Linked DNA regions of Homo sapiens: regions 2, 3, 4, 5, 6 and 7 are each linked to region 1. The links come from fine-mapping of genetic effects on gene expression. A gene starts in region 1. Each other region holds a variant in brackets. All regions are shown on one strand. Distances are from middle to middle. Region 1 holds the start of SURF1 (SURF1 cytochrome c oxidase assembly factor). Region 2 overlaps ADAMTS13 (ADAM metallopeptidase with thrombospondin type 1 motif 13). Region 3 has its middle 14 kb from the start of SURF6. Region 4 overlaps STKLD1 (serine/threonine kinase like domain containing 1). Region 5 has its middle 55 kb from the start of OBP2B. Region 6 has its middle 40 kb from the start of OBP2B. Region 7 has its middle 6.7 kb from the start of OBP2B.

Region 1 (4,064 bases):
TCCAGCCTCTGTCCATTTCCCTCCTTAGCTGGACTCCAGAAAGGCTTTCTGGTGACCCAGCACCTGCCTAAGGCCGGACACTGCCCTCATGGGCTGCAGCCTACGCTCCACTCTAGCCAGGTGTCCCTGCCAAGCTTCAGGTGCCTCACCAAGGTTGCCAGGGGCCTCTGTGTTATCAAATCTATCATTTTTCTGTCCTCATCTTCCCTTCAGTACCACGGGAGGACTTCCAGCCTCTTCCTGGGGCTCAGGACCAGGCCTCTCTCCCTTCTCTAAACTCTCGCCGGGTGCTCACCCAGATCCACGGTGCAACCATCTCCTTCATCCAGCACGGGTGTCCCTGTTTCAAAAGCCCGATACTTCCCTAATACACACCTTTCCTAATACAGCTCAAGCTTAAAACCTTCAAAGGGACTCTGAATTCTCCCCCCAAAACCCACCGTCTTTTCCTGGATGACCGCAGTCAAGGAGTCCTCCCTTCTCAACCATGCACACTGTCCATGCAGCCCCCACCCAACCCTCTCCACACACCCACTGCAGTGCTCCTGGCCTGGTCTCTGGGTCATCCGGGCTGTGCACACTAGCCCAGCCAGTCCTTTGGAGCCTACCTCAGCCAACACATTTTTGCCTCAGACTTCCATGGACCCTGGCTTCTCCCTGGGGTGCTGTTCCCCCGACCCCACTGCCACCACATCCCTCCAGCCTCAGCCTCGAGCGAATCCCTCAGCGAGTCTCCCCAGCCCTCCTGTCTCCGCAAGCCCACCCCACATCCCTCGCCCAGTTTCTTTCACACCTCGCATTGCCACGCACACTCACTCACTCCCGAGCCTGCTTCTGGCTCTGTGCCTGCCTGCACTAAAAGCTGTGGGGTCAGGGGCCATCATCCCTCTCTTCACTGTGCCAAAAAACAGGCCTGATGCATCAACACGGATCGCTGAAGGACGACCTGCCTTCAAGCACGCTCCATCTGGGGCAAGGCGGGCATGCACTCAGATGGCGATGCACTGATGGGGGTCCACTGGGACTTACATTTACACAGAGCTCGCTGGTACCGCCGGCCCTGGGTGTGCCTCAGCACGTGTTCTGGGCACTTGTTGATGTGCCGCAGGGTGAGTTTGCAGAACAACTGGTGCCTACAGAGCAGAGAGACCAAATTTGTAGGGACAGTTCACAGCAAGGATTCAGACTGGTGGCTGTGTCTTGGACTCATCCCTGGACAGTCTACCATGCGGCTTGGACATCGGGCTTTTAAAGGCTCCCGGAGCAATTCCACTCTGAAGCTGGGTGGGGAACCGTCTGACCCAGGCCGACTGCAGCCTCTTAATGTTTACCGGAAAAGCACGCATGGCAGCCTCACTGACTGCTCCAGGATGAGTTCATGCAAGAGGATGGCTCCACCTGGAGCAAGGGCTCAATGAATGGAAACATCCTATCTCTGTTTTGACGATTATTACAAAGCCTAGCTCCCAGCTAAATCAAAGACCCCTTCTGGGGTTAAGGGAAGAACCCAACGCTGTTCACAACCTCAGGTGACAAATCACAAGCCTCTACTCATCTGGGAAGCAGCCACACCCCACAGGACAAACCTCAGGTGAGCAAACGAGCTCACCAAGAGGCCTCGCCGCTGGGACCGCAGGTGATTCCAGCACCCGGGCGCCCACCTGGGTCCCAGGGCTCCCAACTCTGAAAGAGTAGGGGCTGCAGCACTGGCGGAGTCCAGCGGAGGGGCTGTCCTAATTGCCCTGGGCCTCCCCGCGCCGCCGCGGACCACCTACGGGTTCTTGGTGCTGGGCACGATGTGCGGCTCGAACTCTGCATAGTCGAAGGCCGGGGAGGCGCGGACCAGCCGCTGGTACTTTTTGCCGCGGGTGTAGACCTGGAGCTCCGGCAGGCGGCAGGGCAGCTCGTGACCTGTCAGGATGCACCTCACCTGCGGACGCGTGGGCGGGCAGGACGTCAGGAGGGCCAGGGCTCCGCTCCCTGGTGCCCCCTCCTGCCGCGCCCCCTTCCCTCTCCTCCCCTGATCCCGCCGCGCCCTCTCCCCTGCCCTCCCCTCTCTCCTGCTCTCCCCTCTCCCCTCTCCCCTGCCCTCTCCTCTCCCCTGCCCTCCCCTCAGCCCCTCATCCCAACTGCGCCCTTCTCCGCCACTCCGTTCCCCTCCCGCGCTGCGAACCTTGCGGGCGTCCGTCTGGAGCCGCAGGCTCGGGTGCTCCCGCAGAAACGCCCGCACGTCGCCCGGCAACTCGCTCATGGCCGACGCGCCCGCGGAGCAGCCCGGCGGAAGCCGCTCGCAGAACCTGGAGCCGGGGGCGGGGCTCTGGGCGGGACTCAGCGGCGCCCCGGATGCAGATGCTTCCTGCGTCCCGGAAGCGCCCGCGGGGCCGGGTGCGATGGCGGCGGTGGCTGCGTTGCAGCTGGGGCTGCGGGCGGCGGGGCTGGGACGGGTGAGCGCCGGGTGCGGGGTGCGGGGTGCGGGGCGCGGGGAGGGGTCCCGGAGCTCAGCCCGCCCGTCCGTGTCCGCAGGCCCCGGCCAGCGCCGCCTGGAGGAGCGTCCTCAGGGTCTCCCCGCGCCCAGGTGAGGGCTGCAGGCCGGGCTGTGATCCAGGCGCCTGGGCAGAGCCACCTGCTGTCTGCCCTGCACTTTGAAGGGTTGTCGTGGGGATTGAAATGAACCAACTGCCGGCTGAGCGGAGGCTCCCTGGGAGTGACAAGTTCCGTATTAAAATGCTTTCAGTGGAATTGTGGTCGTGTGCCGGGCATGTAGCGAGCGCTTTGTCCTCACAACGCGAGAGGTAGCTCCTTGGTCGTTCCCCTGTTACAGAGAAGGCTCGAGAGTTACTTCCGAACGTCCCATCCAGCTAATGGGTGGCCAGCCCAGGCTGAAAGCCCAGGGCTCTGAAAGTAAAGCGTATCTAACCACCGCGGCTTACGTGTTCCTCTCAGTGTGCAGCACAGGGCTGTTTTGCCGTGTGTAGAGTGCTGTGCAAGCCTGCCCCAGGCCTGCCTTTTTATAAAAAAAAAAAAAAAAATAGTATCCGCAAGGCCCCTGGTGCTTTTCAGCGGATGGAACTCATCCTCTGAGAGCTTAAAGGCACTTTCTGTGTACATTCTTCCCTCTTTACATTTACGATGAGTTGTAAAAATGGAAAGCTGTTAAGAGAGCTCTGTGAGCCATTACTGAATTGATATATTTTTCTACATAACACAACAACCACTAGTGCCTGACTAAGCTACTTAGTAACTGTAGCTGCTTATTTTTTATTTTTTGAGACAGTTTCGCTCTTGTTGCCCAGGCTGGAGTGCAGTGGCGCAATCTCGGCTTACAGCAACCACCTCCTCCCAGGTTCAAGCGATTCTCCTGCCTCAGCCTCCCGAGTAGCTGGGATTACAGAAGCACCATCGTGCTCAGCTAATTTTTGCATTTTTTTGTAGAGATGGGGTTTCTGCATGTTGGTCAGGCTGGTCTCGAACTCCTGATCTCGTGATCCGCCCGCCTTGGCCTCCCAAAGTGCTGGGATTACAGGCGTGAGCCACCGTGCCCGGCCAACTGTAGCTGCTTATTAAATGCATTTTGAATGGATGAATGGTGCATCTTAGTGCAGTGGAATACATCTAGATTCTTGAGTAAAAAGGCATGAGTTACTCAGGGTCGTGGTTGGTGGTCAAACCGGCACTGAGCCCTAGATCCCACTTACTCACTTGGCAGACGTACTGTGTGTGCCTTGTTCTGGGCACCGGGTTAGGAGCTGGGCTGGATACAGGTGCTGCTAGTTGGCTCTAGGCAGCAGGTTTTGATTGGCAGTACTGGAGTCTGTCTTGGAACGGGCTGCTCCAGGTCTGTGTTCGAGGGCTTCTGGCTCCATGTCAGTGTTGTGAAACTCTCCAGGGGTGGCCTGGAGGCCAAGCAGATGTGGCAGTTCTGCAGCAGAAGCATCTGCCACAAAAGCGGAAGATGACTCCTTTCTTCAGTGGGTCCTGCTCCTCATCCCTGTGACTGCCTTTGGCTTGGGGACATGGCAGGTAAAGACCGGCATCTGGTGTGCGTAACTCTGGGCCCTTGACCT
Region 2 (4,064 bases), 71 kb before region 1:
TTTTGTGAGTGGGAACAGGAGTTCTCGGCCCGCGCCCCCCACCAGGAGCCGGCTCTTGGCTGGGACCAAGACTAAGGCTCCTGCCGGCGCAGAGGTGGGTGGCCAGCAGAGGGAGCGGCGACGGAGGGACGGGTCTGAGTGGGATGGAGCAGATGCAGGTTAGGCCCGGGAGCGGTGCGGTCGGCGGGAAGGGGACGCAGGGATACATGTACGCGGGTGGGGGAGATAGGGGTGTGGGACTGATGGAGCGTGGAGAGTGGACGGAGGGGTAGGGGCGGGTGGAGGCAGACGAAGGGTAAGGGGGTGAAGTGAGGGGGTGGGTGCAGGAACAGGGTGGGCCCAGGAACGGGGTGGGTGCAGGGGGCTGAGATGGAGGGGTGGATGGAGGAGGGTAGGATGCAGGGGTGGGTGTAGGCAAGTGGGAGAGAACCAGGGAGTGTATGTGGAGTCAAGGGGCGGGATGGGGATGGACGGAGGGGTGCGTGCCCAGATTGGCTGGAACGAAAGTGTGGGCGCAAGGGGGCGAGGGAGGACGCAGGGGTGGGCGCAGGGAGGGGGTGGAACGGAGCGGTGGGCGCAGGGGTTGGACAGAAGGGTGGCCGCAGAGTGGGACAGCACGGGGGGAGGTGCAGGGGGTGGGGCAGGTGGGTGGGACGGGGGGGTGGGTGCAGGGGTTGGGACGGAGGGGTGGGCGCAGGAGTGGGCGCAGCGGGATGGGACGGAGCTGTGGGCGCGGGGTTGGACGGAGGAGTGGGTCAGGATGGAGAGGTAGGACAGGAAGGAGGGCTGAATGCGGAGTGGGGACGGACGTAGGGAGAGGTGGGGACGGACGTAGGGAGGGGTGGCGCGGGCGGCCCAGCGGGCTGGCTGGAGGCTCGCGCGCCCGCCCCTCCACGGACGGAGCGGTGGGCGCGGGGTTGGACGGAGGGGTGGGTTGGACGGAGGGGTGGGACAGGAAGGAGGGCTGAATGCGGAGTGGGGACGGACGTAGAGAGAGGTGGCGCTGGCGGCCCAGCGGGCTGGCTGGAGGCTCGCGCGCCCCTCCCACGGGGCGGCCGCTACCTGAGCAGGCTCAGCAGCTGCCGGCGGCTGCAGGGGGACCAGGCGAGGCCGGCGCGGGGCGCGGCGCCGTCCGAAGCCATCACGTGTCCGCTGGGGCCGCAGCCGCTGCCGGGCGCGCCGTCGTGCTCCAGGCCGAAGCTGGTCGGGGGGCGGGGAGTTGCGCTAAGGCGGCCGGCAGGGGCGGGGGCGGGGGTGGGGGCGGGACGGGGGTCGGCGAGTCAGCGGCCCGGCGCCCTAGTGCCGCAGCGCCAGCGAGTTTTCCGACCCGGGTCGACCCCTGACGCCGCCATCTGCTAACTGGGCGCAGTGGAGAGGGTCGCGTGCGCCCTGCCTCAGTTTCCCCCAGAAGGGAGCGCTAGCCCAGCAGGGTGGCTCTCGCATCTTTTGCTAATAAATATCAAAAGCCTTTAAAAATGTGCAAGCCACATTAAATCATGGTGTTAGGAGTCTGTGGGGAGGTGGGGACTGGCCGGGGCCTTGAAGGGCTGCTCTGGGGACTGTTTACATGGATGTGTTGAGCGTGAAATTCACCTACTGTGAGGAAAGCACGATTTTAAAGTTCAGTTAAAACGTGCTTGCCCTTGGCCATTGTTTGCATTCCTAGGCCAGGAAGGTGAACCGTTTCCAAACTGTCACAACAGAGCTTGCTTTACCCAAAGCGGAACTGATGGAGGACTCCTAATGGGGTGGGAGAGGCCAGGCACCGGTGAGGTAGGAGGTGGACTCCACTCTGGAGGCCCCGCTTGGACACTGGACCAGAGGACTAGCTAAAACAGGGAGGGGTGGGAAGCCCCTTTCCATAAGACACGCCCACCAGTGTGCCAT[A/G]CCAGTTTGCCATTGCCATGGCAAAACCCAGAAGTTACTGCCCCTTTTCCATGACGAAAACCTAGAAGTTACTGCCCTTTTTCTAGAAATTTCTGCATAATCTGGCCCCTTAATTTGCATATAATTAGAAGTGGGTATTAACTAGGACTGCAGCCCTGCCTTTGAGCTGCTCTTTTGGGCACAGTGTCTATGGGGTAGCCTGGCTTCAAAAGGGGCTATGCTGTGCTGTATACAGTCACAGGGCTGTACACTCTGCCCACTGCCACATCAATCAAAGTTGCTGTCTAACACCACCTGCTCCCTCTTGAATTCTTTCCTCGGTGAAGCCAAGAACCCTCCCAGGCTAAGCCCCAGTTTGGGGGCTCACGTCTTCTGCATCACAGGAGCAGAAGGGAACTATGCTCCCTCTGAGGGAGAAGGAGCCCTGCCTTGTCCCACACCCAGGAACCCTGCCTCAACCCTCCCAGGCTCAGAGGGGTTGAAAGGGGTCGGGTGGGGGTTGGTGGGCAAGGAATGTGGAAATTCACTTTTTACTTTAGAAATCTCTGCACTGTTTGAATTTTTACAACAATTGGGTATTATTTTCATACTTAAAAAACTAAAGAAATGAAAAGAAACCCATCACTCTAGGTAAATGGTTATAGGTAAGAGTGAAGGTTTGCCCACAAGAATGCATAACATTCACAACAGGAAGACGTGTTCAGACAACCTAGACATCCAAGAAGAGGGGACTGATTAAATAAATTACGGTGCACACCTCTAAGATACCTGGGATAATGTTTGGGATATATTATTACATAAAGAACAGGTAAATCCTGCACTTACCCTAGGAAGAAAAAAGAAAGGCTGGATGCAGTGGCTCACGCCTGTAATCCCAGCACTGTGGGAGACCGAGGCAGGTGGATCACCTGAGGTTGGGAGTTCGAGACCAGCCTGACCAACATGGAGAAACCCTGTCTCTACTAAAAATACAAAATTAGCTGGGCGTGGTGGCACATGCCTGTAATCCCAGCTACTTGGGAGGCTGAGGTGGGAGAATCACTTGCACCCAGGAGGTGGAGGTTGCAATGAGCTGAGATCACGTCATTGCCCTCCAGCCTGGGCAACAAGAGCGAAACTTCATCTCAAAAAAAAAAAAGAAAAGAAAAGAAAAAGAAATAGCAGGTAACAAAGCAATGCACAGCATAATCACAATTTTCCTTTTTTTCAGGGATCCAAACTAAATCCCAATTTTGCAAATAAGAAATATGTGTGTGTATGTAAAGAAAAGACTGAAATTAAATACAAAATGTGAAGAGACATTATCTCTAAATGGTGGGATTTGAGATAATTTTTACAGCCTGCTCTTTCTTTACCTGAATTTTCTACAGAAGTTATTTTCTACCTGCTAAAGGTGTCTTGCTCGTCTTTTGGAAAAAAAGTTCTTTTAATCAAACAGTATCAGGTTCCCCTGTCCTCACACCTGAGTCTGTCGGGGTGAGGGGTACAGGCTCCTCTGGAGAAACTCTACAAGGACCCACTGCTTGCCAAGACCACCTCCACCCTGGGTACCCAGGTCAGCTCCTTGCCAGATCCTGGGGACAGCTGGTGGGGCTACATACCTGTGCCCAATCTCATGGGCAATGGTGACTCCCAGGTCGAAGCCAGTGTCCTCGGTAATGAGGCAGCTCCAGGTTGGGGAGCAGGCACCGCCCAGCTGGGTGACGCCCCGCACCTGCCGGTTACCATCAGGCAACTCCAGGTCAAACCTCGGTGAGAGAAAACAGTCACTTGGGTGGTGCCAAGGCACGTGCCTGCCCTGGGGTCACCTTTGCAGAGGGCAGGAGGCTGAGGGAGCAGCCTTCCCAGGCTGGCTGGCCAGCACCCATCAGAAAGCTCGGCTACCTAGTGATATAGAGGACCAGGTCAGCATGGCCAGGATCCGTGTCGTCCTCAGGGTTGATGGTCTGGCTCCACCCACAGACGCTCAGCAGGGACGAGGTGAGGTTGGCTGTGATATTTGGAGCACCCTGCGGACCCACAGCAAAGCCTGCATTTAGGACACCCCAACCAGGCACGGTGCTGACTGCGGTCGGTTTGTTTCCCAGTTAGTCCTCCTAACAACCCTATGACTAGCCCGTGTTAGGGATGAGACAACTGAGGCTCAGAGAAGTAGTCAGGCAGCCTGTGCTGAGTGC
Region 3 (4,064 bases), 34 kb after region 1:
GAGCAACCTAGATCCCTCGCATGCGCAGTTCACAGTAGGGTTTGCACTTCTATGAAGATCTAATGCCACCGCTGATCTGACAGGAGGCAAAGCTCAGCAGTAATGCTCCGCCTCAATTCGTTTGTTTTAGCAAAGTTGTCTGGACTTCTACCTTGGAGTCTGTCCTGTCTTGGCTCTGCCCTGCCAGCCAAGGACCTGCCTGCTGCTGCCTCCCCACCGCTGCTTCCCCTGCTGCTGCCTCCCCCGCCACCGCCTCTCCTGCCTGCTTGCTCTGCTGCTGTTGTGCCTCTTCACGTCCCTGTTTCTTCCTGGCTGCACTTTCCACAGCATCTCTAGACTTGTGTCTGTGGCCTTTGCTTCCAGTCCTTCCTAAGTTCCACCAGCACCTGTCCACCTGTTCTTCCTGGGGCCGCAGAGTTCCCCATGGCCATTTCCGCTGCAGCCACTCCCCTGGCCACTTCCCCAGCTGCATCATGGGGCTGCCCGCTGGCTTGCCACTTTCACTTGGCTTTGTGGCAGTGGTTTTCTCTGTGTTTTCTTCATCTGCAGGGAAGTCTTGCTGTTCCCTTTTTGTTTGTTTGTTTTTGAGACAGGGTCTTGCTTTGTTGCCTGGGCTGGAGTGCAGTGACATAGTCACAACTCACTGCAGTCTTGACCTCCTGGGCTTAAGCGATCCTCCCGCCTCAGCCTCCCAAAGTGCTGGGATTCAGGAGTGAGCACTGCACTGGCCACCCGCTCCTTTTAGGTTTCTTTTTTCCCTCTGGTATCTTTGGGTGGATATTGATACTCATATTTGGATGAATTGGGTTTCCTGGATTGGGAGGGTGGGGCTGGCAGAGCCCAGAGTATAACTTTTCTGGTTTTGAGCCTGCCCCTCTCCTGACGTGCAGTAGCCTCTAGTATGGGCTGCCTCTGTGGCAGGGCAGGCTGAGTGCCGGAGCCCAGTAGGGCCAGGAGCGCCTCCACCACCATCCACAAGATCCCCTCTTATCTGGAAGTGGAGTGTCCACCCAGCACCCATGCCCCACTTCCGTGTGTGTTTCCGCAGCTCCACTCCCTGCTGGTGTTCAGCCCCTTCCCAGCAGTCCCATTCAGGCTAGGGCCTTCTCCTTCTGGGGTGTGACCCTGAGGGTTTCCTGTTCCCACCTCCTCCCGGCTTTCTCCACGCTCCCGCTGCCCCCCGACACCTGTTCACCCTCGGGACTCCATGCATAGTCTGCTTGTCTTTAAAATATAATAATTATTTTTTGGACACAGGGTCTCCCTGCGTTGCCCAGGCTGGAGTGCAGTGGCTCTTCACAGGTGCAATTATACTGCACTGCGGCCACAAACTCCTGGCCTCAAGCGATCCTCCCACCTCAGCCTCCCAAGTAGCTGAGACCACAAGTGCATGCTATTAAGCCTGGCTTAAAAAACAACGTATTTATTGAAAATTTGAGGTTCAGTAAGGCCACCAGATCAGGAGATAATTGCCATTGAAAGGATAGTTTACGACAGTTTCCAGGAGAAGGGGTACCCCAAGCCACACAGGGCCACACGGGGAAGTGCTGGAGTCGGTCAGGAGGCAGGAGAGGGCAGAACTGTGGGTGAAGCCCGTAATGTGGTTTCCATGGGAGGGGGTGGGCGAGGCGGTAGGGAGGCTTAGGCTTGGCTCATTTGAATGATTTCAGCGCGCTCTGGGGTGTAACACCTGCATGCTCAGTGAGCTCCTCGAGGAATCCCCCGTATCGCTGCAGTAATTCCCGTATACGCCTTGTGAGGGCTGCACACAGGCTGTAGTGGCCCTTCTGCAGCTCAGCGTG[G/T]ATGGCTTCTCCAGGGTCAGCCAGAAGCAGTGGGGTCAGAGCGAAAACCAGGGCTTCCTGGCTGTGACGCATGTGCCTTCAGCCACTGAGCTGCCCTGCTTACCCCACAGGAATTGGGAAGACATCAGGGAGGGCTTACTGGGGAAGGTGAGCATCAACCTTGACCCTGAACGATGGGAAAATTAGGATGGCAGAAAAGGGCATTCAAGAAAGGAAGAATTGGCCAGGCACAGTGGCTCACGCCTGTAATCCCAACACTTGGGGAGGCCGAGGCGGGCGGATCACCTGAGGTCAGGAGTTCAAGACCAGCCTGGCTAACATGGTGAAACCCCATCTCTACTGAAAATACAAAAAATTAGCCAGGTGTGGTGGCAGGCGCCTAATCCCTGCTGCTTGGGAGACTGAGGCAGGAGAATCACTTGAACCAGGGAGGCGGAAGTTGCAGTGAGCTGAGATCCCACCATTGCACTCCAGCCTGGGCGACAGAGTGAAACTCCATCTCAAAAAAAAAAAAAAAAAAAAGATACAAAAATTAGCCAGATGCGGTGGCACATGCCTGTAGTTCCAGCTACTTGGGAGGCTGAGACAGGAGAATCGCTTGAACCAGGACGGGGAGGTTGCAGTGAGCCTAGATCATGCCACTGCACTCCAGCCTGGGTGACAGAGTGAGACTCCAACCCCCTCCCCCCGCAAAAAAGGAAGAATTATATATATGATTATTATATATTATATACATATTACATGTACTATATAGAGAGATGATACATAGATATAGATCTATAAACAGATGGGATCTTGCTATGTTGGTCTTGAACTCCTGGCCTCAAGCAATTCTCCTGTCTCGGCCTCCCAAAGTGCTGGGATTACCAGCGTGAGCCACTGCTCCTGGTCAAGAGAGGAAGAATTTTTTGTTTTCTCAAACAAAGGAAGGGAAGGTTCTGACACGTGGGAAGTTTCCCCAGGGACGGAGTCCCTGTAAGGACAACGGGGCCGCGCAGAGCCTGGACGCTCAGGCCAAGGACTGACATGTCCCCAGAGCAGAAGGGCTGTGTCTGAGTCCCCGGTGAGGGTCGTGAGGACAGAAGACTCAAGCCCAGCAATACAGGCTGGGGCAAAAACACAGACGGGGTGGTCAACTGCGGGACAGAGATCAGCAGGAACTGTGGCTGTGCTGGCAGGATCCACTAACTACATAAAGTCATCAGTAAACATGGACAGTACATTTTTTATTTTTTTGAAATGGACTCTTGTTCTGTCACCCAGAATGGAGTGCAGTGGTGCGATCTCAGCTCACTGCAACCTCTGTCTCCCAGGTGCAAGCGATGCTCCTGCCTCAGCCTCCTGAGTGGCTATTACAGGTGCACACCACCACACCCGGCTAATTTTTATATTTTTAGTAGAGATGGGGTTTCACCATGTTGGCCAGGCTGGTCTCGAACTCCTGACCTCAGGTGATCCGCCCGCCTCGGCCTCCCAAAGTGCTGGGATTATAGGCATGAGCCACCATGCCCGGCCCATGGGCAGTACATTTGTGGGCTGGTGGGAGAGGGCTTGTCTTGGGCCTGTGCAGCTCCTCAGTTTCTCAGTCACCATGATCCTTGGAAAAGAGAAGATTCCAGGAAAGAGTAGAGAGATGACCTGGTTCCCCAGTATCAGGAAGGCGGAAGTGGCAAAGGGAGCAGAGACATTCAACGGTTCACGGGCAGAGCCAGGCCATGGGGGAAGGACCTTCTAAGATAGCCAGAGGCTGTGAATCCACATACAGGGTAGTGACACACACGCTCGACTCAGACTTTTGGGTCCTGTCCATAGCTGTGAAAGGGTACACTCGGGGACCTGCTGCGAAGGTTTGTTGTGCAGTCTCATGAGATGACACCAGCAGTGTGGTGAGACTCCTGCCTGGGCCGTGGCAAGATCTTGATCATGTTTAGCTCCTTTTTCACGAAGAAAGCTCTGCAGCCTGGGCCTGCCATACCCAGGGCGGGGAGGGGGGTGACTGCTCTTCGCTGATGCTCCAGTGAAAGGGGGGCACCTGGGCCCGAGGCAGATGCAACGGAGTTCCCAGTGACCAGCAGCCGGAATGACCTCTCTGAGCACGTCTGCATTCAACAAACCTGGACCAGGCTCAGCACAGGCCAGGCGGGGCACTGCAGGCATATCTGTGGAATGAGAGAATGAAGCTCCCCAAACACCCAGGCCTGAAAGAGGAGCAACAAGAAAGGAGTGAAGGAGTGGGGAGGAGCAGCGAAGAAACTTCCTGAG
Region 4 (4,064 bases), 32 kb before region 1:
GCGGGGGGCTGACCCCCCCCACCTCCCTCCGTCCTGGGCATTTTCATATCCTTCCTTCTGACACTTTCTTTTCCCTCCATGAGAGGCAACATTTTCTGGGGTACCACAAACAACCACGACTTTGTTTCTCTCAAATGTTGGGTGTCTGTGGGGCCCTGCCTCTGCCCTGGTGGTGGCACGCCTGCTCAGTTGCAACCCAAAGGAGGTCTCTTTGGAGTTTACACAAGGCCAGGGCTTTGTGGGGACCTTCTGAGCAAACAGCTGTTTGATGTTGCCTCACTCCAGCACCCAGAGTGGCCAACGCCGCCTGGATTCTAGGCGCCAACCCCCTCTCCCACAACCTGGGGGAGCCCCTGCCACCTTCCTCCGCACGAATATTCCATTTGGCTTTGTCTGTCATTAGCACATTGGAACTCAGGTCCTGCAGTTTGCAGTGGTCACTGCTGATGAGGATGATGTTGGAGGGTTTGAGATTCCTGAAACCAAGAGGTGGGTTTGCCTCTGGATGCCAAGGGGCCACCTGGGCAGCCACCACCCACAACCCCAGGTGGGACCAGTGTGTGTGCTGAGCCTGACTCTCTGCTCCCTGCCCCACCTGGTTCTGCAGCAGCAGCCCACATCCTCCTCTCCTCCACAAAATGCCCCATCTCAGCCTACTTTTTAAGCAGTTGTTTCCTATGTACAGAAATATACTCAATTATTTTAAATCGGGGGAAAAATCCTCAACCACAAGTAGGAACACACCCAGCACTCCGAAGAGGCCCCTTAATTGACACATTCACCTCCTTAGATATCTCAGCTACACGTTTGCCTGGGGATTGATTTTTGGCCATTGTGCGACGTCTAGTGACATGAACACTGGATGTGGAATGTGAGCATTCCCTTTGTACGTATGGTCTGCGTGGTGTGTGTGTGTGTGTGTGTGTGTGTGTGTGTGTGTGTGTGTGTGTGTGTGTGTGTGTTTTAAGTCAGGGTTGCCCAGGCTGAAGTGCAGTGGCACGATCATAGCTCACTGCAGCCTCAAGCTCCTGGCTTCAAGCAATCCTCCCATCTCAGCCTCCATGTTGCTAGGACCACAGGCGTGCACCACCACGCCCAGCTGCATAGTTTCCCTCTTCCTCTTTAAATAAGATATTGGTGTTCAGAATTGGAGCCATCTCCCAGCCCCTTCAGACCATGGATTCTCCAGCCTGAAAGTTGTGCCGCTGGGGGTCAAAGGCTCAGCAGGGCCCACTCAGCCCACACTGGCCCCACGGCAGGCAACCCGGTCTCTCTTCTTGGCAGGGCTTTTGCCTCCTTCCTTTCCACGAACTCTAGAGCAGCCCGCCTGGCTAGCGCACACCCCATGCAGCTGTGCGTGTGCACATGGCTTGAGACCACTTGGAAGAGCCTCTTTCAAGCCCGGGAGGAGCTCTGTAAGGTCCCATCCTATCCTGGCTGCACTGGCCCGGTGCACCTTTCTCCCCAGATCCTGCCCACGGGCACTGGCACCCGAGTGGCCTCAGTGCCTTTTCTCCCGAAGCAGCCAGCCAGTCCGCAGAGGTCAGGGGC[C/T]CCACTTACCTGTGGATGATGTCCAAATGGTGCAGGTATTCCAGCGCGTCCAGCACCTGGCCCAGCACATTCTGCATCCACTGGGGGAGAAGTAGGGGGTGCCAGGATGGGAGGGGCACCCTGTGCTGCTTTCAGGGGGGTGACACTCAGAGCAGCCAGCAGGATGGTGGTGTATCCTCTCCTTGCATCTTGAGACAGGCCTGAAGCCAGCCAAGCGCTCAGGGTGGAGGAGGCTTCAGCGTGGTGGCTCTCCAGATGGTAAAGCCGCGGCGGCAGCCAGAAGGACTCTGAGTTTCCAGACTCCACACTGCTGTCTCCATACCAGAGACCCTGGGTGCTGCAGGGGCCCCATCCCTGCACCCTACTCTGTGGCCCGCGCTGCCCCACACTTGCTGGGAGCTGAAGGCAGATCGGCCTTGCGGGTATGGGAGAGGTGGAAGCCTTCAGTGCCTACATGAGCTCAATCCTCTAGGTCATTCAAATGAAAAGAGCCCTGAGAGAGAATGCTAGGAGTGTTCTGCATCAGAGACAAGCTCCATCGAGTACCCAGCGCGGTGATTCTAAAGCTGGGCTCCTAGGGCCCCTGGATTCAGGGCCACCCTGGGGTGTCAGAGAGGGGCTGAGGGGGCAGGATGTGGGCGTCCTCCCACTGCCCCCAGTTAGAGTAGGTCTGCTGCACTTACTGGGTTTCTGGGAATATTTCGTGTTTTGAAGGGCTTCACTCACAAAGTCTGAAACTCACTCCGGGCCTGCCTCTGAGGCCCATGGTAAGAGAAGAGCTGTGTGCCCCGAAGAGCCCCTCAGGGGTACATGGTCCCCCCAAACACAGTTCTCAGGGTAAAAGCAGGTAGCATTCATCTGGGGTAGATGAAAGATCTAAATGTGAAGGCAAAAATAACCAAGCTTCCATAAGACAGAGGAGAGTATCTTCATGATCTTGGAGCAGGAAATGCTTCTTAAACTCCAAAGGCACTAACCATAAGAGTCAGCATTGGGAAAGCGAACTCCATTACAGTTAGGACTTTCCATCATCAAAAGACATCATTAAGAAAGTGAACTGGCTAGGCGCGGCGGCTCACATCTGTAATCCCAGCACTCTGGGAGGCCGAGGCGGGTGGATCACTTGAGGTCAGGAGTTCGAGACCAGCCTGGGCAACATAGCAAAACCTTGTCTCTATTAATAATACAAAAATTAGTGGGTGTGGTGGTGGGCACCTGTAGTCCCAGCTACTTGGGAGGCTGAGGCAGGAGAATCGCTTGAACAGGGAGGCGAAGGTTGCAGTGAGCCAAGGTCGTGCCACTGCACTCCAGCCTGGGCGACAGAGTGAGACTCCATCTCAACAACAACAACAACAACAAGACTGACACAATGAAGTGCTGGCCTCCATGTGGATCGGGAATGCTCACAACTTGTGAGAGTAAACATGGGGCCAACCAAACCAAGTCGGAAATCTGTTTGGAGCATCCACTGAAGCTACACACATGTACTCTACGACCCAATAATTCCACTCCTAGGTATTCATCCCAGAAAAGTGAGTGTCTTCCAGCAATGCTCATAGCAGCCTTATTCACAATAGCCCCAAACTGGAAGCAGCCCAAATGAGACTAGGTAAACAGCCTGCAGCGCAATCAGGCAGCAGAGTGGCAGCAAGCAATGAACACATGATTTGCTGGTGCATGCAGCAGCACCGCGGGGCTCACAACAGCAGGCTGAGGGAAGGAGACCAGACAGGAGTGGCAGCATGCCGGACGAGTCCATTTACAGGAACTTCAGGGACCGGCAGAACAATCTGGAATCATGGTCACCGACTGGGAACCTTCTAGTGTTAGGAACGCCTTCTGTCTTGATCTGGGTGGAAGTTGTGTGAGTGCATCAAACTGTGCACTTAAGATCTGCACACATTACCTAGAGTGCAATGCCTCGAGGCACACATTTAAGAAAAAAACAAGGCTGGACTCCATGGTGCCTGCCCTCCCGCTGTTACTTTGCCCTGCACCGCAGGGCCTGTGTCACAGGTCTAGGTGGCCCCCAGGCCTGGTGCCCCAAAGGACCTCACCTCAGAGTCAATGATTTTCTTTGCCTTCCTCTTATCCTCAATGACCTCCTGGAAGCTGAGCTCATTGAACTCCATCACCAGGCAGAGGTACAGAGAAGAGATCTGCTGGGACAGGAGGCCCTTAGCCAAAGGACGCCCAGGCCCCGGTGCTTCTGCAGGCTCACCTGCTCCAGGGCCTCCCTGCGCTCAGCTGCCATTTGCAGTGGCCGTGGGAGCACTGCCCACTGGAGGGGGCTACAAGCCCCTCCTGCCCCACCTTCAGCTTCCTCTCTCTCCTCTCCCCATTCCCAGGCTCCACCTCCACTCCACACTCCATCCACACCAAGCTACTTGGACTTTCCCAAAAGCTGCACTTGTCCCCTGGCCACTGCACACATGGACCCCTCTGCTTGGACCACTACCCACCCCCTTCATAGGGATAACTATGCACCCTTTAGGGCTCAGCTCAGACCCATT
Region 5 (4,064 bases), 93 kb after region 1:
GCAATCTCGGCTCACTGCAACCTCCGTCTCCCAGGTTCAGGAGATTCTCCTGCCTCAGCCTCCCAAGTAGCTGGGATTACAGGCATGCGCCACCACACCCAGCTAATTTTTTGTATTTTTAGTAGAGGCAGGATTTCACCGTGTTGGTCAGGCTAGACTCGAATGCCTGACCTCGTGATCCACCCACCTCGGCCTCCCAAAGTGCTGGGGTTACGGGCGTGAGCCACCACGCCTGGCCTTAGTTTTTGTATTTTTAGTAGAGATGAGGTTTCACCATGTTGGCCAGGCTGGTCTTGAACTCCTGATCTCAGGTGATCCACCTGCCTCGGCCTCCCAAAGTGCTGAGATTACAGGCATGAGCCACTGTGCCCGACCTCTCTTTTAGTTATTTTTAAATGTGCAATTAAATTATTATTGACTATAGTCTCCCTGTTATGCTATCAAATACTGGGTCTTATTCATTCTTTCTATTTATTTGTACACATTAACCATCCCTACATACCCTCTCACCCCTGCCACTACCCTTCCAAGTCTCTGCGAACCATCCTTCTATTCTCTATCTCCATGAGTTTAATTGTTTCGATGTTTTGATACTACAGATAAGTGAGAACATGCAGTGTCTGTCTCTCTGTGCCTGGCGAGAAAATATTTGTAATATTTGTATTTGGCAAAGGACTTGTATCCAAAATATAGAAATAAATTCTGCTCAATAATAAAAAGAGAAACAACTTAATGAGACCCAGTGTCTACAAAAAGTAGAATAATTAGCCGGGCATGTTGGTGCATGTCTGTAGTCCCACCTAATCAGGAGGCTGAGGGGGAAAGATCACTTAAGCTCAGGAGTTCGAGGTTGCAGCGAGCTGTGATCGTGCCACTGCACTCCAGCCTGGGTGACAGAGTAAGATCCTGTCTAAAAAAAATAAAAATAGAGGGCCAGGTGAGGTGGCTTATGCCTGTAATCCCAGCACATTGGGAGGCTGAGGCAGGTGGATTGCTTAAGCCCAGGAGTTCAAGACCAGCCTGGGCAACATGGTGAAACCCCATCTCTACCAAAACCACAAAAAATCAGCTAGATGTGGTGCATGCCTATAGTCTCAGCTACTCAAAAGGCTGAGGTGGGAGGATCACCTGAGCCCAGGAAGTCGAGGCTGTAGTGAGCCATGATCATGCCACCACACTCCAGCCTGGGCAACTGGAGTGGGACTGTGCCCCCCAAAAATATATATAAGTAAATAAATAAATAAATAAATAATAAAATGAGCTAAAGATCTGGACAGGCTTCATAAGAAGCAAGCAAATGGCCAATAAATACATGAAAAGATGATTTACCTCCTTAGTCATTGGACACACTTAGATACCACTCCTCATCCACTAGCATGGCTAAAGGATAAAAGAGTGACCATCAAGTGTTGGCAAGGACTGTGGTTCTCGTACATTCCTGGCGGGAATGGAAAATTCAGTCACCACTTTGGAACACAGTTTCTTACAAAGTTAAACATACACTTACCATATGACCCATCTTTTCCATTCCTTGGTATTTACTCAAGGGAAATGAAAACACAGGTCCACAAATACCTGCACATGAGTGTTTACAGAAGCTTTGTTGCTAGTGGCCCCGAACAGTGAAAAAACCACAGTGTCTGTCAATAGGAGACAGAATAAATGAATTGTGGCGGATTAACAATGGCGTGCTTCTCAGAAATGAAAAAGAACGAACGATTGATACACGTGACAATATAGGTGAATCTTCAAAACAGCATGCGGTGTGATGCGGCCAGACATAAAAGAGCATGTATCAGAGGATTCCGTGTATGGGAAACGCCAGGGAATCAGATCCATGGTTGTCAGGGTCAGGAGGGACCTTACTGGGGTGATTACATGTGTACATACATTGTGTGAAACTCATCAAAACCGTATACCTAAAGTGGGCACATTTTATTGGATGTAAGTTATCCCTCAAATTAAATTAATTTTCAAAGTTTTAAAAAATGGAACCATTTTTGCCACATTGAAGGAAAATTATTTCCACCAAGATTTCCCTACAGCCAAACGATCTACCAACTACAAAAATGGAAAAAATAATTTAGGACATGTAAAGTTCAAATGTTTTGCCTCCCACGTTTCTGTTTCAAGAAGCTATTCGAGATAAATCGCTCCGTGGTCACAGGACTTAGAAAGGTGGAGGTAAACACACACAAGCATTATAAGATAAGAAGTAACAGATGAATTAGTTGAAAGGGACTGATTTCGGGGGAAGGAATAGGAACTGGGCCAGGAGATAGACGCCTTTCAGGCTTGCCCTTGTGAAAACGATAGTCCCCTCTTACCTGCGGGGGATAGGTTCCGAGATCCCCAGTGGATGTCTGAAACCACAGATAGTACCAAACCCTACAGAGAGTATGTTTTCTCCTGTACACACATACCTATGATAGGGTTTAATTTATAAATTAGGCACCGGGTGGGATTAACAACCATAATTAATAGTAAAATAGAACAATTATAACAATATACTGTC[C/T]GAGGCGGGTGGATCACTTGAAGTCAGGAGATCGAGACCAGCCTGGCCAACATGGTGAAACCTGTCTCTACTAAAAATACAAAAAATTAGCCAGGCGTAGTGGTGGGCGCCTGTAAACCCAGCTACTCGGGAGGCTGAGGCAGGAGAATTGCTTGAACCCGGGAGGCGGAGGCTGTAGTGAGCCGAAGGTGCCCCTTTGCACTCCAGCCTGGGCAACGAGCAAAACTCCATCTCAAAAACAACAACAAAACAACAACAACAACAAAAACAATATACTGTAATAAAGGTTACGTGAATGTGGTCTCTCTAAAAAAAAATGTGTATATATCTTAGTTTGTGGGTTTTTTGTTGTTGTAGTTTTGTTTATTATTAAGAGACAGGGTCTTGCTCTGTTACCCAGGCTGGAGTGCAGTGGTGTGATCATGGCTTACTGCAGCCTTCACCTCCTAGGCTCAAGTGATCCTTCCACCTCAGCCTCCTGGGACCAGAGGCATGCACCACTATGCCCAGCTAATTGTTTTTTTTTTTTTTTTCTTGATAGAAATGAGTTCTCACTATGTTGCCCAGGCTGGTCTAGAACTCCTGGCTTCCAGCAATTCTGCTGGCTCAGCCTCCCAAAGTCCTGGGATTATAGGCACGAGCCACGATGCCTGTCCTCAAAATATTTTACTGTACTGTACTCACCTATTATTGGCCTTTGGTTGACCATGGGTAACTGAAACTCCAGCAAGCGAAGGTGTGGATAAGGGAACTACTGTACGTGACTTTAATATACATAAAATCACCTTAAAGACAATGATTGTTTCCAGAACATGAGCCTCTGAGACAGCAGGGAGATACTAGGGGAAGTTGGTGGCTCCTCTCCCTGGCAGGAACTGGTCTGGGCTCCTGGCTCAGCCTGGCCATGAGGCTGTCCTGGCCTCCCTCGGTGGGTTCGACAGTGACCTCGACGTGCTCATTTCAGTGTGGTTCATTCCGGTCTCCCAGGGGAAGGGGGTGCTGAGTGGAAGGAGGTCAATGGGAAGCCGGGGTGGCTCTCAGAGTCTGCAGGAGCAGTCGGGCTGATGAGCTGGGAGGAGCAGACCGCCTCCCTCTTCTCTGAGTGGGAGGAGGGCCAGATCTGGACTGGGTTTGGAGATGCTCAGGTGGGGCTCAGAGCATCACCTGTGGGGCAGAGGGACCATCTTGGCAGATGAAGGCCCGTCGCAGGGTGTGATGCCTGAATTACAAGGCGGGACAGGTAAAGTGGGGCAGGTGAGAGAAGGAGGGTGAGTGATGTGATTTTTCTACTCCTGTTTTCCAGGAAAACCAAAATGCCACGCACTTCGACCTATGATCCTTTTCCTAATAATGCTTGTCTTGGTCTTGTTTGGGTAAGACACATTTGACCATCGAGGCTGGCCTGGTTTGGGGAGAAGTGACCACAGCAGCCAATCAGACCCATGGGGCCTCCCTGAGCTCCCCAAGTATCACAGTTATCAGGGTCCTAAGGACAGTTATTGCCTGCGTCCAGCTCTGGCGGAGGGTGTGCTTACTTGCTCCCTTATTT
Region 6 (4,064 bases), 110 kb after region 1:
CCCAGGGCCACACCTGGCAGAAGGTGGCTTATGATGTTCGCAGCTTGAAAGTAGTGTAAACCAAAGATAAAATTCTAAGCCCACTCCCCCAGCCATCGGAATGGACCCCTCCTCTTGGCCAGGGCACTCCAAAGTTAACCTGAAAAACCGGTTCAGGCTGTGAAGAGAAGGTGGAGTGGACATGCCTCATTTATGTCCTCCTCCCTTTTGGAATTCAGCAAAGCTGACCAGCATGAACATTAACACAGACCTTAAGTCTGATTAGTGGCATTTACAATCTATACTCTCTGAAGCGTGCTACCTGGAGTCTTCCTTTGCATGATAAAACTTTGGTCTCCACAACCCCTTATCATAACCTAGACACTCCTTTCTAGTGATAATAACTCTTTCAACCAATTGCCAATAAAAAAATTTTGAATCTACCTATAACCTGGAACCTCCCCGCTCCACCTTCGAGTTGTCCTACCTTTCTGGACAGAAGCAATGTGGATCTTGCATGTATTTGATTGATGTCTCATGTCTCCCTAAAATGTATACAATTAGGCTGTGCCCAGATCACCCTGGGCACATGTTCTCAGGCCCTCCTGAGGTCTCTGTCTCGGGCCATTGGTCACTCAGATTCGGCTCAGAATAAATCTCTTCAAATATTTTTCAGAGTTTGACTCTTTTTGTCGACAATAAGCTCATCAGATTAAAGCTGTTGGAACTTTAAATTACTTCGAGCCTTGAAAGAATGTGATTCTGACACCCTAGTCAAGCAGCAAGTCGCTGTGAACTTTGCTTCTCCAATTATAGATTAACGCTCTTCCTTTCTTGATTTGTAAAATGTTATGAAAGACTAAATGGCACCAGATGTAAGACCCCTTCCCTTTCTTAGTTACTGACCTTTTGTTACGAATTAACTTCTTTCTTTTCTTGCACCCAACTCAGACCAGATGGTACAAAAGACCCCATGCCTATCAAATTCCATAAGACAGTATGTTAAATATACTTTTCCCGAAGGGAACAGGATATAACCAAACAAATTGCTGCAACTCATAAGCCAATCTTATGTGGAAAATGTAATCATGCTAAACCTCCTTGTATTTTCCCATTTAAGTGAAGCCCTAATCCCTCCACCTCAGAGCACTGAGCCCATTCCTTTAGAGTCTGTGTTTTTTGAGTGGTGGTCGTCAAACTTAGAGTTCGAATAAACTCTATAACATTGGATTTTGAACCTTTCAATTATTTCAGGTGGCAGAAGAAACACACAGACCCCATCTCTTCCTTTGGAGTTCTGTACTGCTCATTTCAAAGGGATTTCATCCTGCCCTCTGTAACCACCCAAGGGGTTCCTCCTGCTCCCTTTCTAAATAAAGACCATGCATTCCAGTAAAGAAAGAGTTTAATAGACATGAGGCCAACCACATGGTAGAGAGAGTTTGTACTCAAATCATCTCATCAAAGGCTCATAGCTAGGGGTTTCTCAAGGCAGTTTGGGGGGTCAGGGGTGGCCAAGTAACAGGTACTGATTGGCTGGGGCAGACATGAACTCATGGAGGGTCAAAGCTGTCCTCCTGCAGGCTAAATCGCTTCTTAGGGGGGTGTCACAGGAGTGAGGTTGGGGGTTCCAGGTAGAGCCATGGGTATCAGACCTGCAAAAAACCTGAAAAGATATCTCAAAAGACCAATCTACAGTTGGGGAAATTGTGTATTTTGCTAGAGAGGTCTACACCTTAGCTTCTCCCTCTCGCCTCATAGCTTTTCATTAGGTTTACACAGGCAGAAGAGTTTTGGGGGAGGCCTGCTGTTATTTAAACTATAAATTAAATGTCTCCCAAGGTTAGCTCAGCCCAAAAGCCCAGGAATCATTAAGGGAAAGGAAAGATGAGGGGCGGGTTAGCTCAGCTCACTCTTACAATTTTTCTAATTGATAGAGTTTTTGCAAAGGCGGTTTCACTTTCAGCGTGGTCGTTCTCCTAACCTCTCCTGCTTCCCCAGGTCCTCACCCTAAACCAGCACCCATCCTGCACTCCCAGGGTGAACCCTCCCTTCCCTCCTGCTCACCTGGGCCCAACCCAGTTTCCCCCCAGGAGCTGCGGAAGGGCCCAGTGGTGCCACCTTGGCCTCCAGGCATCACTCT[C/T]CAACTTCTTCCCTCCTCCCTCCACAGGACCCTTGCCTCAAATGTCAGTCCCGCTGCTCTCTGCTGCACTCAGCCTCTTCCTGGCAAGTGTGCCCCTCCCCTCTTGAAGCCATCACCAGCCTCTCGTGCCCACCCCCATCTAGGCCCCCCACTCCTCTCCAGTCCCGGTGTCTTGGAAGAGCCTCTGGATCACAGGGGCTGGGAAATTCGACTTGTCATCCCCACCAAGCAAACACATGCTTCCATCCAGGGCCCCTCAGTGGGTGAAGGCTGAGCCCCAGTAAAGGATAGATCATCACTGTCAGAGGCGAGTGAACTAGAGCGACTCCATGTTGAATAGGGACTGGGTAAAATGAGGCTGAACCTTCTGCACTGCATTCTCAGGGGGTTAGGCATTCTTAGTCACAGGATAAGATAGGAGGTTGGCAGGATTAGTATCACAAGATACAAGTCACCAAGACCCTGCTGATCAAATGGGATGCAGTAAAGAAGCCAGCCAAAACCCACCAAAACCAAGATGGCGACAAAAGGAACCTCCAGTTGTCCTCACTGCTCATTATGCGCTAATTATAATACATTAGCTGCTAAAAGACACTCCCACCTGTGCCACAACAGTTTACAAATGCCATGGCAACGTCCAGAAGTTACCCCATATGGTCTAAAAAGGAGAGGGACCCTCAGTTCAGAAAAATCCCCTCCCCTTTCTTGGAAAACTCACAAACAATCCACCTGTTGTTGAGCCTATAATCCAGAAATCAGTATAAGTATACTCAGCTGAGATCCAAGAACCCTGTCTTGGGGTTTGGACTGGGACTCCTTTCTGGTAACAATACTAGGGTATACGGAGCCCCCACATCCCCGGGCAAGTGGTGCAGAAGCCGGAGCCATCAGCAGCCGCCCCTGGCAGGCTCCTGTGTGGACTCCTTGCTGCAGGGCATTTGGTTTACCAGGCGTGAGAGACCCACACGTGAAGCGCTAGCCCAGCCCCATCACCGCAGCACAGCCTCACCACTGCAGCCCAGAAAAACCACTGCAGCCCAGACACACGACTGCAGCTGAGGCCCATCACTGCAGCCCAGACACACCACTGCACCCACTGCAGCTCAGCCCACCACTGCACCCCAGCCCCACCACTGTAGCTCAGCCCGACCACTGCAGCCCAGCCCACCATTGCAGCCCAGACACACCACTGCAGCCCAGCCCACCACTGCAGCCCAGCCCCACCATTGCAGCCCAGGCCCTGCAGTTGTCCCTACTAGGTCTGAGTGGAGGAATCAGAGAGAAAACTCTGGAAAGTGCTAGACACAGGGGAGGCCCTCAAGGAATGGTGGCTGCCACTGGGAACTCTGTTTCTGTGGTGCTTACTGGACAGATAGGCTCCTTTGCAGATTTTTTTATTCCAAAACTAAGCTCCCATCACCCAGTCCTGTCCTCCCTGCTGGCAGAGCTTGTCCCTGGATCCAAGCTGTCTCCTCTGCACCAAATCCGGTGGCCTCAAGTCCCAGCTCTGCTTTGCACAGGGGCTTTTCGAAGCCCTGTCTCCCCTGCTGTGAGATGGGGGTCACCCAGCTGCCCCCCAGGGGGTGGTGTTGCTGACGGAGCAGGTGAAGACAATGCCAAGAGCTGCGCGTGGTCTGGCTTTCCCAGGCTGGATGTGCCCCTCTGATCCTCAGTCTCCCCACATGGACAATGGCTGATGCCGACCACCCACACTAGGTTTGCCCCAGAGTCAAAGTGAGCTCCTTGAGGACAGGGAACTGACCCCCACACAGGGCCCCCCAGGATCTGCTTGAGGAGGCACCAGGCAGTTCTCCCAGAAGGCAGGGCGTGTCTTCAGAGCTCTCTGGGTTGAGTGGGCCTAGGCCATCGCTGCCTCTGCCCAAGTCTTTCTAGAGGCTTCCCAAGTACCAGAGCTGCCCTGGAGGGCCAGAGTTACCAGAAA
Region 7 (4,064 bases), 140 kb after region 1:
AACAGGGATTGCTTGCACAATGAACAATCAGCTCTAGAGGTTTAAAGAGAACCACAAAGAATGGCTCAGGATTGCACGAGGGCAGTTAAGGAAGAAATAAACAGGGGTGGGGATCCTTTCCACAAGTCTGGGTTCAGACCTCACGGGAGAAGGTGTGGTTCTCCCAAGGGAAGCTGGAGAAGTTTGCTGGGTTGTCCCAGCCACAGCTGGCCCACGGTCAGGGCAGAGGCCAGCAGGCAGGGAAATGTAGGCTGGGTCTGGCAAGCAGGAAGCCTCTCTCCCCACCCAAGGCAGGTGGGCTGGGGCTGGGAAGCCTGCAAGAGTCACTGGGAACCCACAGGTGCAGATGCCACTGAATCTCAATAGGAAGCCATCTGGGGGCGGTCCCCTGAATTCAATGTGGTGTGTGCCGCCAGACGTCCCCGACTTGTGCCACTGCCATTTGCATAGGAAGAGAAAGAAAAAGGAAGAAATGGAAGCATCTGGAACCAGTCATCCTGGACCCATGCTAGGAGGCGCTTCTCCCTACGCCTCAACCAACAAAGCTTAGCATTGCACCAGGTGCACAAGAGAAGCGCCTGCTGGCTCCAGCTCCATTGCCTCGGAACCGGCCATGAAGGGTACGTGTGGAGCTGGAGGCAAGACATTGATAGCTGGCACTGCAATTCACTTATTTATTGTGTTCATTTTAAGTCCCCTGCACCTAGAATATAAGCCCCCCGAGCACAGGACATTTGTTTCATTGATCGATGTATTCCTTGTGCCCCAAAGAATGAGAGGCATCTAGAAAGTCTGCAAAAATCAAACATAAAAATGAACCTTTATTCAGTCATTGTTATTTTGATGGAAATTTGAGGCATTTCCAAGATTTGTAAGTAACAATTGAACCCTTCTGCTGGTTCATGTGTGGGAGTGTATCTGTTGAAATGATGCTTCTGAGTGGAGTTGCTGAGTCTTTGGCTCTAGGTTTTTTTTTTTTAAGCATTTATGCTTATTGTGGTTTTTAAATTAAACATTTAACCCTGAGACATTGTAGATTCCCATGCAGTTGTAAAAAGCCACACAGAGCTATCATGTGTATCTTCACCTGGCTTGCTCCAGCCCCAACCCCAGCAATGACAGACCTGTTCTCCACTCCTGAAATCTGCTCATTGCAAGAATGTCGTCTATTGCAATCATAAAATTGTGGGATTGGCTTTTTTTTTTCCTGTGCAGCATCATTCTCTGGAGATTCATCCCATTGTTGCATTTATCAATAGTTTATTCCATTTTACTTCTGAGTAGTGCTCTATGGTATGGATGTACCACAGTCTGTTTAACTATTCACCTGTTGGAGGATGTCTGTGTTTATAGATTTGGGCTATGACACATGTACAGGTTTTTGCATGGACATCAGTTTTCATTTTTCTGGGACAAAGGCCCAGGGGTTCTATTGCGGGGTTCTATGCTTGTTGCAGGGTTTTTTTTTTTTAAACCTGTCAAGCCATTTTCCAGAAACTGTCCAGTTTCCATGCATCCTCACCAGGCTTCAGTGTGATCACTATGATCTTATCTCAGCCACCTTAATAGGTATGTACTGATATATCATGGCTTTTATTTGCATTTCACTGATGACTAATGGTGTTGAGCATCTTTTCATGTGTTTATTTGCCATCTGTATATCCTCTCTAGTCAAGTGTCCCTTCATGTCTTTTGTTTACGTTCTATTTTTGAAACTGTTGAGTTTTGAAAAATTCTTTATAAAGTATAGAAACTAATTCTTTGTTGAATATGTAGTTTGTCAATATTTTCTTTCAGTCTTTGGCTTGTCTTTTTATTCTGTTAACAGGGTCTCTTACAGAGCAAAAGGTTTTTATTTTGATGAAGTCTATTTTAACAATTTTTCCTTTTATGGATCATATTTTTGGTGACACATCTAAAATCTCCTGACCCAGCTCCATATCCCAAAGATTTTCTTTCTGTTTTCTAAAGCTTTTATAGTTTTAAGTTTTATGTTTAAGTCTATGATCCATTTTGAGTTAATTTTC[T/A]TGCAGGGTGTGAGACCAAGGTTGTGGTTCTTCTTTTTGTTTGGTGGTTTTGTCTGTGGATGTCCAGTTAATCCAGCCCATTTGCTACAAAAGCTATCTTCCATTGAATTGCTTTTGCATCTTTGTAAAAACTTAACTGGGTATATGCGTGCAGGTCTGTTTGAGGATTCTTTATTGTCTGTCCCATTGATCTATGCATCTGTCCATCTGCTAGCTATACAATGAGTCTTGAAAGGGTAGCCTGTAGCTGGGTATGGTGGTGTGCATCTGTAATCCCAGCTACTTGGGAGGCGGAGGCAGGAGAATCACTTGAATCTGGGAGGTGGAGGTTGCAATGAGTCGAGATTGTGCTACTGCACTCCAGCCTGGGTGACAGAGCAAGACTCTGTCTCTAAAAAAAAGAAAGAAGAAGAAAAGGAAAGAAAGGGTAGCCTGATTCCTCCCACTTTATTCTTAAAAAAAAAAGTTTTAGTTATTCTAGTTCCTCTGCCTTTCCATATAAATGTTAGAATAATCTTGTCTATGTCTACAAAAATTCCTTCTGGAATTTTGATAGAAATTGTGTTAAATCTTTATATTATTTGAGAGAAATGACGCTTTTATTATGTTGAGTCTCCTAATCCATGGATATAGCACATCTCTCCATTTGTTTAGATCTTCTTTGATTTATTTTATAATCATTGCATTATTTTCAGCATACAAATCCAGCATATGGGTTGTTAAACTTATGCCTAGGTATCTCTTTTTTTTAGCCACTATAAGTAGTATTGTGTTTTTAAGTTTAGGGTCCGTTACTAGTATGTAGACACACAATTGATCTTTGTATATTTATCTTGTATCCTGCAACCTTGCTGAACTCGCTTAATAGTTCTAGGAGGTGTATTGTTTTCTTTTGTTTTGTTTTTCAGTTTCTTGGGATTTTCTACAGAGACAATCATGTCATCTGCAGATGCAGACAGTTTTCTTCCTTCCTTTCCAATTTGTATGTCTTTAATTTCCTTTTTAAAAAACCTTTATTGCTCTGACTAGAACTTTCTGTACTATGTTAAATACAAGTGGTGAAAGTGGACATCCTTGCCTTGTCCCTGATGTTAAGGAGAAAGCGTTTGTAACTGAGTATCCCAGCCTCAAAATGTGCTTAAAAACTTTTTTCCTTTCTTGCTTTCAGCCTTGAAACATACTTCGAAACTCTTTATTTCTCCCTTTCCCACCAGGCACTTCTGTGAGCAGTGCTCGCTTATCTAATTATGTGCTTACTTAGAAATTCCAGGGGCCAATTTTGAAACAAACCAGGCAGAGAGACCCAGCTGCAGAATCCTCCCTCTTAGGGGGAGTTACAGGTAGCCTACCACTTCCCGGCTGAAATCAGGATGACTCAAACCAGACCTCTGGACAGACGATTAATGACTCATGATAACCATTGGAACAAGATGCAGACCAACATCCTCCTGCACCATTCCCACATATTTCCCACACCTTTTCCTCCTTAAACCCCTTCGCTCAGTCCAGAAAGTTTGAATGGTCTTTTAAAGGCATGGGCCTGGCCATTCCTCTACTGCTAGCATTTGAATAATGCTGCTTTCCTTTCACCACACTTCACTTCTCATGCCTTGACTTCTGAGCAGCGAGCAGCTGGACTTGAGCCAGTTACACATCAGTCTTTCACCATGAGAAATGATGTTAGCCATAGGTTTTTTGTAGATGCTCTTTGTCAAGTTAAGGAGGTTCTCTTCTATTCCTACTTTTCTGAGAGTTGTTTTCCTGAATGCGTGATGAATTTAGTCAAATACTTTTTCTGCATTGATCGATATGATCATGTAATTTTTCTTCTTAACATATTAATATGGTTGATTTTTGAGTATTGTACCAGGTTTCCATCCCTGGAATAAACTGCTTTTGGTCATGGTGTAGAATTAATTTTATATATTATTATTTGCTAATATTTTGTAAAGGATTTCTGTATCTATATTCATGAGGTATATTGTTCTGCAGCTTTCCTTTTTGTGTTGTCAGGTTTTGGTTGGGAGATATTCTCTC

What was found. PIP is the estimated chance that this variant, and not a neighbour inherited with it, causes the effect.
Region 2: its variant is the best candidate, but not a certain one, in a credible set for the expression of SURF1 in sun-exposed skin (GTEx, PIP 0.88).
Region 3: its variant is the best candidate, but not a certain one, in a credible set for the expression of SURF1 in adrenal gland (GTEx, PIP 0.52).
Region 4: its variant is the best candidate, but not a certain one, in a credible set for the expression of SURF1 in whole blood (TOPMed, PIP 0.61).
Region 5: its variant is the best candidate, but not a certain one, in a credible set for the expression of SURF1 in esophagus mucosa (GTEx, PIP 0.72).
Region 6: its variant is the best candidate, but not a certain one, in a credible set for the expression of SURF1 in subcutaneous fat (TwinsUK, PIP 0.88).
Region 7: its variant is the best candidate, but not a certain one, in a credible set for the expression of SURF1 in left ventricle (GTEx, PIP 0.65).

What each region holds. Positions count from the first base shown.
Region 1 is chr9:133,354,780-133,358,843 of GRCh38, reverse strand. It overlaps SURF1 (SURF1 cytochrome c oxidase assembly factor), which reads left to right and starts at 2,357. Exons shown (of 9, transcript NM_003172.4): 1 at 2,357-2,444; 2 at 2,524-2,575; 3 at 3,887-4,020. The coding sequence starts at 2,391. SURF2 (surfeit 2) reads right to left here and starts at 2,294. Exons shown (of 6, transcript NM_017503.5): 1 at 2,174-2,294; 2 at 1,776-1,930; 3 at 1,030-1,133. The coding sequence starts at 2,251. RefSeq lists silencers at 2,126-2,195, 2,436-2,555.
Region 2 is chr9:133,425,770-133,429,833 of GRCh38, reverse strand. It overlaps ADAMTS13 (ADAM metallopeptidase with thrombospondin type 1 motif 13), which reads right to left. Exons shown (of 29, transcript NM_139027.6): 5 at 3,772-3,896; 6 at 3,489-3,635; 7 at 1,063-1,200. Among named protein-coding and RNA genes, the nearest start is that of ADAMTS13, 5.4 kb to the right of the region's middle. RefSeq lists a silencer at 1,032-1,101. The variant A/G (reference allele first, on the strand shown) is at 1,888.
Region 3 is chr9:133,320,459-133,324,522 of GRCh38, reverse strand. No RefSeq gene overlaps it. Among named protein-coding and RNA genes, the nearest start is that of SURF6, 14 kb to the left of the region's middle. The variant G/T (reference allele first, on the strand shown) is at 1,803.
Region 4 is chr9:133,387,093-133,391,156 of GRCh38, reverse strand. STKLD1 (serine/threonine kinase like domain containing 1) reads right to left here. Exons shown (of 18, transcript NM_153710.5): 5 at 3,609-3,710; 6 at 1,561-1,631; 7 at 361-476. Among named protein-coding and RNA genes, the nearest start is that of STKLD1, 13 kb to the right of the region's middle. The variant C/T (reference allele first, on the strand shown) is at 1,552.
Region 5 is chr9:133,261,923-133,265,986 of GRCh38, reverse strand. It overlaps the pseudogene ABO. Among named protein-coding and RNA genes, the nearest start is that of OBP2B, 55 kb to the right of the region's middle. The variant C/T (reference allele first, on the strand shown) is at 2,516.
Region 6 is chr9:133,246,986-133,251,049 of GRCh38, reverse strand. It overlaps the pseudogene ABO. Among named protein-coding and RNA genes, the nearest start is that of OBP2B, 40 kb to the right of the region's middle. The variant C/T (reference allele first, on the strand shown) is at 2,123.
Region 7 is chr9:133,213,892-133,217,955 of GRCh38, reverse strand. It overlaps a transcript of OBP2B not described here. Among named protein-coding and RNA genes, the nearest start is that of OBP2B, 6.7 kb to the right of the region's middle. The variant T/A (reference allele first, on the strand shown) is at 2,028.